2 linked regions of the Homo sapiens genome follow. The protein of the gene in region 2 interacts with the protein of the main gene of each other region in a biochemical or structural test. Each region holds a gene or a part of one and is shown on either strand. Other genes may lie near its edges.

Region 1 (3,749 bases), on a different chromosome or scaffold from region 2:
CTGTCTCCAGAGCAATTGAACACTCAAACCTGAGTGAGTCATTCTCCTGGTGAAAATTCATCTCTGGCTCCAGTCTACAGGATCAAATCCAAGGTCCTGACCCTCTCTCCTCCCTCACACCACATCTTGACAGTACTAAACCACTATCTGTATCCTAAATGGTCTGTGCTTTCTCTTTTCTTTGGGCATCTGGGAAAATTTGTTCCCTAGGTCTGTCAACTCCAGCCGCATCGTGTCTCCCTGCAGATCTTCACAAGCATCTAGCGCAGGGTCCATGAGGAAGGGGACGTCCCCTTTCTGGGAGTACAGAAGTGGGTCACTGGAGCATTAGAAGAACATCAACATCATCTTTCTAACCCAATCCTTTTGAAGTGATTTACAACACACAAAACAAATAGACTATTTGTAAATGAACATCCATTAGGAGGTCATGCTCATTTTTGTCTTTTTTTTACTGATAGAGCTAGAAAGCCACAAACGCAGGAGGCCAGTGTACCTATCAATATAACAACCCATGGAACCAACCCTCCCAAGAACGCACAATACAGCTGGAATCGTGGCTACCTGTATTTACCATTACTGTGACCAAGTGAGGCAATCTTAGACCACGAGACCAAATTCAGCCCCACGAGGTCCTATTTGTCTTTACCAGGGGCTCAGCACATAGTGTTTAATTTCCCAGGGATGAAACCATCTCTCCAAGATCAGACAGCCTTGCAGACAGACATGATGTGATCTTGAGAATTTAAAGGATATTCTCAATGAAGTTTTGTTTCCATCTACTTTTTTTAAAAGCAGGTATTAAAAATAACTGAACCAGCCAAGTGTGCCCACCAAAAGCAGGAATCAAGAAGCTGAAATATGCTTCAGCTCCCTTGTACCCTGTAATTATTTAGCCTTGTTTACAGCAACTTTTTCCAGAAGCAGAATCGACCTTATGAACAGCTTATCCCAAATACTACTCAAGGGCTAACAGATGACCACATCTTAAATATCAAGAGCTTCTAGGTGTAGAATGTCTTCGTAAAGCAAGCCCTTATAGGATTTTCTTTTAAAATTTTCTCTGGGAGTCACATTTCTTTGGGAGAAGTCTGCCTTAAGTGACAACCTATTCATATAAGCAGTCAATTCTGACACAACTACCAATTTTGGTGTCACCCATCAACATTGAGACCTTTCTAAATCTTATACATTTCAGGATGCCAGATTACAGTATAAACTTCAAACAAGAGGAAAACCCAACACGTAAACCTGCGGAAGAGAAGCAACACACCAGCTGCCCTGGAAAACACTCTCCTCCCCCCGCGACACATGCATTTCCATCCTTCGCATCTGGTCACCTCCGCTGGCTGTCGGCCCTGCTCCGCTCCCTCCAACTATGCCTGCGAAGTGCTTCATTTCTTCTCTATTCGACCCGTAGGTGTTGCGTGTTCTTCTAAACTACGTTCAACAGTAAAGTGCAGGACATTCCAACAGCTCCACAAAGAAGCAAAATATTATCTCTGCAAAGTCATGCATTTAAAAACCAGTTGCTTTCCCTATTTTATTGATCAGTCTTTGAACTTCTGAACAGATTTTCGATCACCGCAAGCTGAGCCCTTCTAGAAGATCAGGATTCTAAAGCTCGACTCGGTCCACCTTCTGCTATTCTGGGAACACCCTTCATCCCCAGGGGCCAATGCGAGCCTGGCGGGTCACAGCGCCCGTTTCACCGAGAGGGGGCCGGGCTCCGCAGGGGGCATTCCCCGGCCGTTCGCGCGCTCCCGGCCCGCCGCGAGGGGCGCCCCGGGCAGCGCGGGGGTCGACGGGCGGCGCCGCAGCGCTGGGCCGCGGCCAGGAATGAGCTCAGCGTCCCCGCCGGGTGTTGCCGGCAGGTTGCATCAGACGCCGCGCGGCGCCGCCGCCCGCGCCTCCAGCCTCGCGTGGCCTTCCCGGGCCAGCGGGCCGTCTGGGGCCGGGGCTGGGTTTCCCCGAGCCGGGCCCGCACCCAGTCGAGCGGCCGGCGTCGCCGCGGCCTCCTCCTCCCCGTTCTCAGGGCGCCCGCCGCAGCCTCCTTACCTGCTCCTCTAGCCCGCCTGCCCCCAGGCGGCCTCCACTCCGAGCGGCCCCGCGCGGTGCGGCCCGAGCCGACCCAGGCCTCACAGCCCGCGAGTCAGCGAGGAGGAGCGACGGTTACGAAACCGGCAGCCTCCGCCCGTTCCGCAGCCGCGGCCACCGGCTTCCCCTGCTCGCCGGGGCCGCGCGCGCCGCCGCCGCCATCCCGGCCAATGGGAGCGCCGGCCTGCCGGAGGCACCGCCTTCTCTCGCGACGGGCAGCCCAGTCGACCAATCGTGGGCAGGCTGGCGGCGGGAGGCGGGCCCACGGTGGGGGAGTGGGTTCCGCGCGGCTGGCTCGGCGGGTGTGGCGGGAGCAGGGAGCTGCTTGCTGCGGCGTCCGCGGTCCCTAGGCAGCTCGCCCGGGCTGGCGGCGGCCTAGTGCTGTGGACGACTCAAGTTCGAGTCGGAGGCTGAAAAGCCGTCACCTTGTGGAGGCCAGACGTGCCTTTGGAAGCATTTTCTGAGGTGGTTTTGTGAACCACCGGCGACTGTTTTGGTTTCGCCGCGTCCCTTGGAAGCCCCCGCGGCGTCCCTCACAGAGTTTCTGCGAACGGAACGCCCCGCAGGCGGGCGGGCTTTGTCGCCGCAAAAAGAGTGGAGGCTGACGCGGTGGCTCCCGCCTATAATCTCAGCGCCGAGGGAGGCCGAGGCGGGAGAATGGCTTGAGCCCAGGCGTTGGAGAACCAGCCTGGACAACATAGCGAGACCCCATCTCAGTTACTAATTTTTAAAAAATCGAATGAACCCAGATGTTTCACACATAGGATTAGCATTGATGTCACATGGGTGAAATCCATGTGCTGCAGGCTGTGCTTTGTTGTTAGGGTGAGATGAAGTGAATTTCTTAAAATGATTCTCTTTGGGTGCCTTCCAGGTGCATGGGTGCGAGGTGATCTCTGAAAATAAGCAGCGATCCAGTGTGACTTAAAACTCGCCAGGAGAACCCGAAAGCGTTTTTTTTTTTTTTTTTTTTGAGACGGAGTCTCGCTCTGTCGCCCAGGCTGGAGTGCAGTGGCGCAATCTCGGCTCACTGCAAGCTCCGCCTCCCGGGTTCACGCCATTCTCCTGCCTCAGCCTCCCAAGTAGCTGGGACTACAGGCGCCCGCCACTACGCCCGGCTAATTTTTTGTATTTTTTTAGTAGAGACGGGGTTTCACCGTTTTAGCCGGGATGGTCTCGATCTTCTGACCTCGTGATCCGCCCGCCTCGGCCTCCCAAAGTGCTGGGATTACAGGCGTGAGCCACCGCGCCTGGCCCCGAAAGCGTTTTAACACCAGGAAGCAGCAGCTCGCTGGGCGGAGGGCAGAACTCGCCTGATAGGTTTAATTGCTTCCTCTTTAGCAACGCGTATCGTTCAAACAATTGAGGCTTTGAAAGAGGAAATGTTTCTTCAGCGCCCATGGAACCGGCTCGCCCCGTAAGATTGTTTCGAGGAATCAGTAAGATGATAAAGCAATAAATAAAAATTAAAAGGGGTCACAACGGTGAACAATGGGCTGGGCGCGGTGGCTCAGGTCTGTAATCCCAGCACTCTGCGAGGCCGAGGCAGGCTGATCACTTCAGGTCGGGAATTAGAGACCAGCCTGGGCAACATGGAAAAACCCCATCTCTACCAAAAATACAGAAGATTAGCCGGGTGTGGTGGCGCTGTG
Region 2 (3,649 bases):
TCACCAATTTTAAACATCTCTACTTAAATTTTAATTTTAATATGTACTTCAGGGTGCATTCATTCATTAAGCAGATATTGATGGAATGTCTATTCTGTGCCAGTCACTGTTTTTCATGCTGGGGATATAATAGGGAACCAAATAAATTAGATTAAATCCCTGCCCTTGAGGAGCTTATATTTTAGTGGGTGAGACAGACAATAAACAAGATAAATAGGTAAAATATATGACATGTTAGATAACAGTAAATGTTAGAAGAAAAATAAAACAGGGAAGGGTAATATGAAATGTTAGCAGCAGGATAGAAATTTTAGATTAGGTGGCTTTTGAATAAAGACCTGAAGGAAGTGAGGGAGCTATATGCATTTATATGGAAGAAAAGTACTATAGGGAGGAGGATCAGCAACTGCAAAGATGCAAAGTCGCAAGGTACCTGGTACATCTAGGAACATCAAGGAGGCTCAGCTGGAGTTGGGGGTGGAGAGTAGTTGGAGACAAGTAGGGGACGTAATAGCAGCATTTTATGTAGGGTCTCATCAGTCATGGTGAGGATCTCAGCTTTTACTCCACACTGGGGGCCATTAGAGGGTTTTCAGCAGAAAAGTGATATAATTGATCTGACTAGGCTGGGCGCATGCCTGTAATCCCAGCACTTTGGGAGGCCAAGGCAGGCGTATCACCTGAGGTCGAGAGTTCGAGACCAGCCTGGCTAACATGGTGAAACTGCTTCTACTAAAAATACAAAAAATTAGCTGGGCGTGGTGGCATGCGCCTGTAATCCCAGCTACTTGGGAGCCTGAGGCAGGAGAATCACTTGAACCTGGGAAGCGGAGGTTGCAGTGAGCTGAGATGGTGCCATTGCGCTCCAGCCTGGGCAACAAGAGGGAAATTCCGTCTCAAAAAAAAAAAAAAAATTGATCTGACTTACATTTGAACAGGACATCAGGGGTACAAGGGCAGAAGCAGGCAGTCCACTTAGGGGCTGTTACGGTAATACAAGCAAGGGATGACGGTAGTGAAAGTGACGAGAGCAGGCTGAATCCAGGATATGTTTTGAAGTTAAAGTGATGAGAGCAGATGGGATGGTATATATGAGAAAAAGAATAAAAAATTACACCAAAGTTTCTGGCTTAAGCAACCACAAGAATGAAGTTGTCATTAATTGAGATAGGGTAAAGTGTAGGGGAAATGGTTTGGGAGGTATATCAGGAACTCAGTTTTGGACAAACTGAGTTTAAGGAGCCTATTAGGCTTACAGGTGGAGATGTCAAGCAGTCAGTTGGTTATATGGATTTGTAATTCAGAGGAAAGGCTGAAGATAAAACTCTGGGAGTCGGCAGCATATAGCTAGTTTTGGTTTTGTTTGGTTTGGGATTTTTTGGAGGCAGGGTCCACCTCTGTCTCCCAGGCTCTCAAGTGATCCTCCCCACTCAGCCTGAGTAACTGGGACCACAGGCGTGCACCACCATGCCCAGCTAATTTTTTTTTGTTATTTTAGAGATGATGTTTTGCCATATTGGCCAGGCTGGTCTCAGACTCCAGGACTTAAGGGATCTGCCCGCCTTGGCCTCCCAAAGTGCTGGAATTACATGTGTGAGTCACCACACCTGGCCATAGTTAGTTTTTAAAGCATTGAAACCAGATGAAGTTCCCAAGGGAGACAGCAGAGCTAGAAAAAGAGAAGTCCCAGGAATGAACCATGGGGTACTCCAACATTTACAGTTCATAGAAATGAGAAAGAACCCACAAGAGACTGAGAAGAAACAACCAGGAAGTGAGGAGGAAAACCAGCTACAGAGCCAAATGTGGTATTCTGTAAATCAAAATAAAAAAGTGTTTCAAGAAGTTCAGTGATTTTAAATCCTGTTGCTCGGTGGCTCACGCCTGTAATCCCAGCACTTTGGGAGGCTGAGGCGGGCGGATCACGAGGTCAGGAGATCGAGACCATCCTGGCTAACACGGTGAAACCCCATCTCTACTAAAAATAAAAAAAATCAGCCAGGCATGGTGGCGTGCATCTGTAGTCCCACCTAGTTGGGAAGCTGAGGCAGGAGAATCGCTTGAACCCAGGAGGCAGAGATTGCAGTGAGCCAAAATAGTGCCACTGCACTCCAGCCTGGGTGATAGAGCAAGACTCTGTCTAAAAAAATACCAAAAAAACAAATCCTGTTGATGGGCTAAAGAGGATAAGGACTGTTTATCAGTATATAATCTATATACGGTCAGTTTTCCACTTAGTCCCTGCAAGAACTCTGATACATAGTTAATCCATTAAACTACTTATTCTTTTTTTTTCTCCTGCCTCAGCCTCCCGAGTAGCTGGGACTACAGGCGGGCACCACCACGCCCAGCTCATTTTTGTATTTTTAGTAGAGACGGGGTTTCACCATGTTCCCCAGGCTAGTCTCCAATTCTTGGCTTCATGTGATCTGCCCACCTCTGTCTCCCAAAGTGCTAGGATTACAGGTGTGAGCCACCGCACCCGGCCTTACATATTCATTATAGCAAAGATGTATTTAGTTCCTGCTGTGTGGTATAGATATTATGTAAGTACCTGACACATGATGAATAAGACACTGTCACTACCTCTGAGAGAATCATAGGGTCATATAAACCTGTGGATGAGGTAAGGATAGATATCCCAGTTAAAAAGCCCCTAAACTGGGAGCTTCCTAAGGATAGGGTTCCCGTTTTCTTCTCTGTGTACCCATGCCTGGTACATGGATGATGCTCAGTAAAATGTTTGATGAATATATGCTGTGAAAACACAAAGAATAAAACAGTTAATGTACTGAGGGTAACAAAGATGGCTTCACAGAGGACGCAATATTTGAATCTTTTTTTTTTTTTTTTTGAGACGGAGTCTCGCTCTGTTGCCCAGGCTGGAGTGCAGTGGCACAATCTCGGCTCACTGCAAGCTCTGCCTCCCGGGTTCACACCATTCTCCTGCCTCAGTCTCCCAAGTAGCTGGGACAACAGGCGCCCGCCACCATGCCCAGCTAATTTTTTGGTTTTTTTTTTTTTTGAGTAGAGACGGGGTTTCACCATGTTAGCCAGGGTAGTCTCGATCTCCTGACCTCCTGATCCGCCCAGCTTGGCCTCTGAAAGTGCTGGGATTACAGGCGTGAGCCACTGCGCCCGGCCATATTTGAATCTTAAAAGAAGACTCAGGCATTCATCAGGATGTCAGAAATACAACTGACTATGGAACGTTTGCCTTTTTTCCACATATTTCTGTTTAAGCAGCCATAGAGGCTATCCGATGTTTAATAAAACTCCTTGACTTGCTGAGTGTGATGACTCATACCTGTAATCCCGGCAATTTGGGAGTCTGAAGCAGGAGGATGGCTTGAGGCCAGCAGTTGAAGGCTGCTGTGAGCTGTGATTGTGCCATGGCACCTCCAGCCTGGGTGACAGAGTGAGACCCTCTAAAAAAATTTTAAAAACATTTGACTAATGAGCAACATGGAGTTACCATTGTATGTAGCTCAGGTAGTTGTGTTTAGTAGTAAAATGTTAGTGTCACTTTAGGTGGAGTGGCATAACTTATAATGTTTTATAATCATTAATGCCTAGCTAATTTTTAGTCAGGAGGGTCTTAAGATTTCTTTGTAGTTTTACATGTTAACTGAACCCGGGCCAGGGACTG

The links.
Region 1: the proteins of ATF7 (region 2) and CEBPG interact in a test that uses a peptide from one of them, tested with the Homo sapiens proteins (one large-scale study listed by IntAct).

What each region holds. Positions count from the first base shown.
Region 1 is NC_000019.10:33,372,205-33,375,953, reverse strand, and holds the start of CEBPG (CCAAT/enhancer-binding protein gamma), read right to left. Parts: upstream 2,246-3,749; 5' UTR 2,059-2,245; intron 1,842-2,058; exon of another isoform or gene 1,341-1,841; intron 1-1,340. UniProt on the Homo sapiens protein: Transcription factor that binds to the promoter and the enhancer regions of target genes. Binds to the enhancer element PRE-I (positive regulatory element-I) of the IL-4 gene. Binds to the promoter and the enhancer of the immunoglobulin heavy chain.
Region 2 is NC_000012.12:53,518,259-53,521,907, reverse strand, and holds part of ATF7 (cyclic AMP-dependent transcription factor ATF-7), read left to right. Parts: intron 1-3,649. UniProt on the Homo sapiens protein: Stress-responsive chromatin regulator that plays a role in various biological processes including innate immunological memory, adipocyte differentiation or telomerase regulation.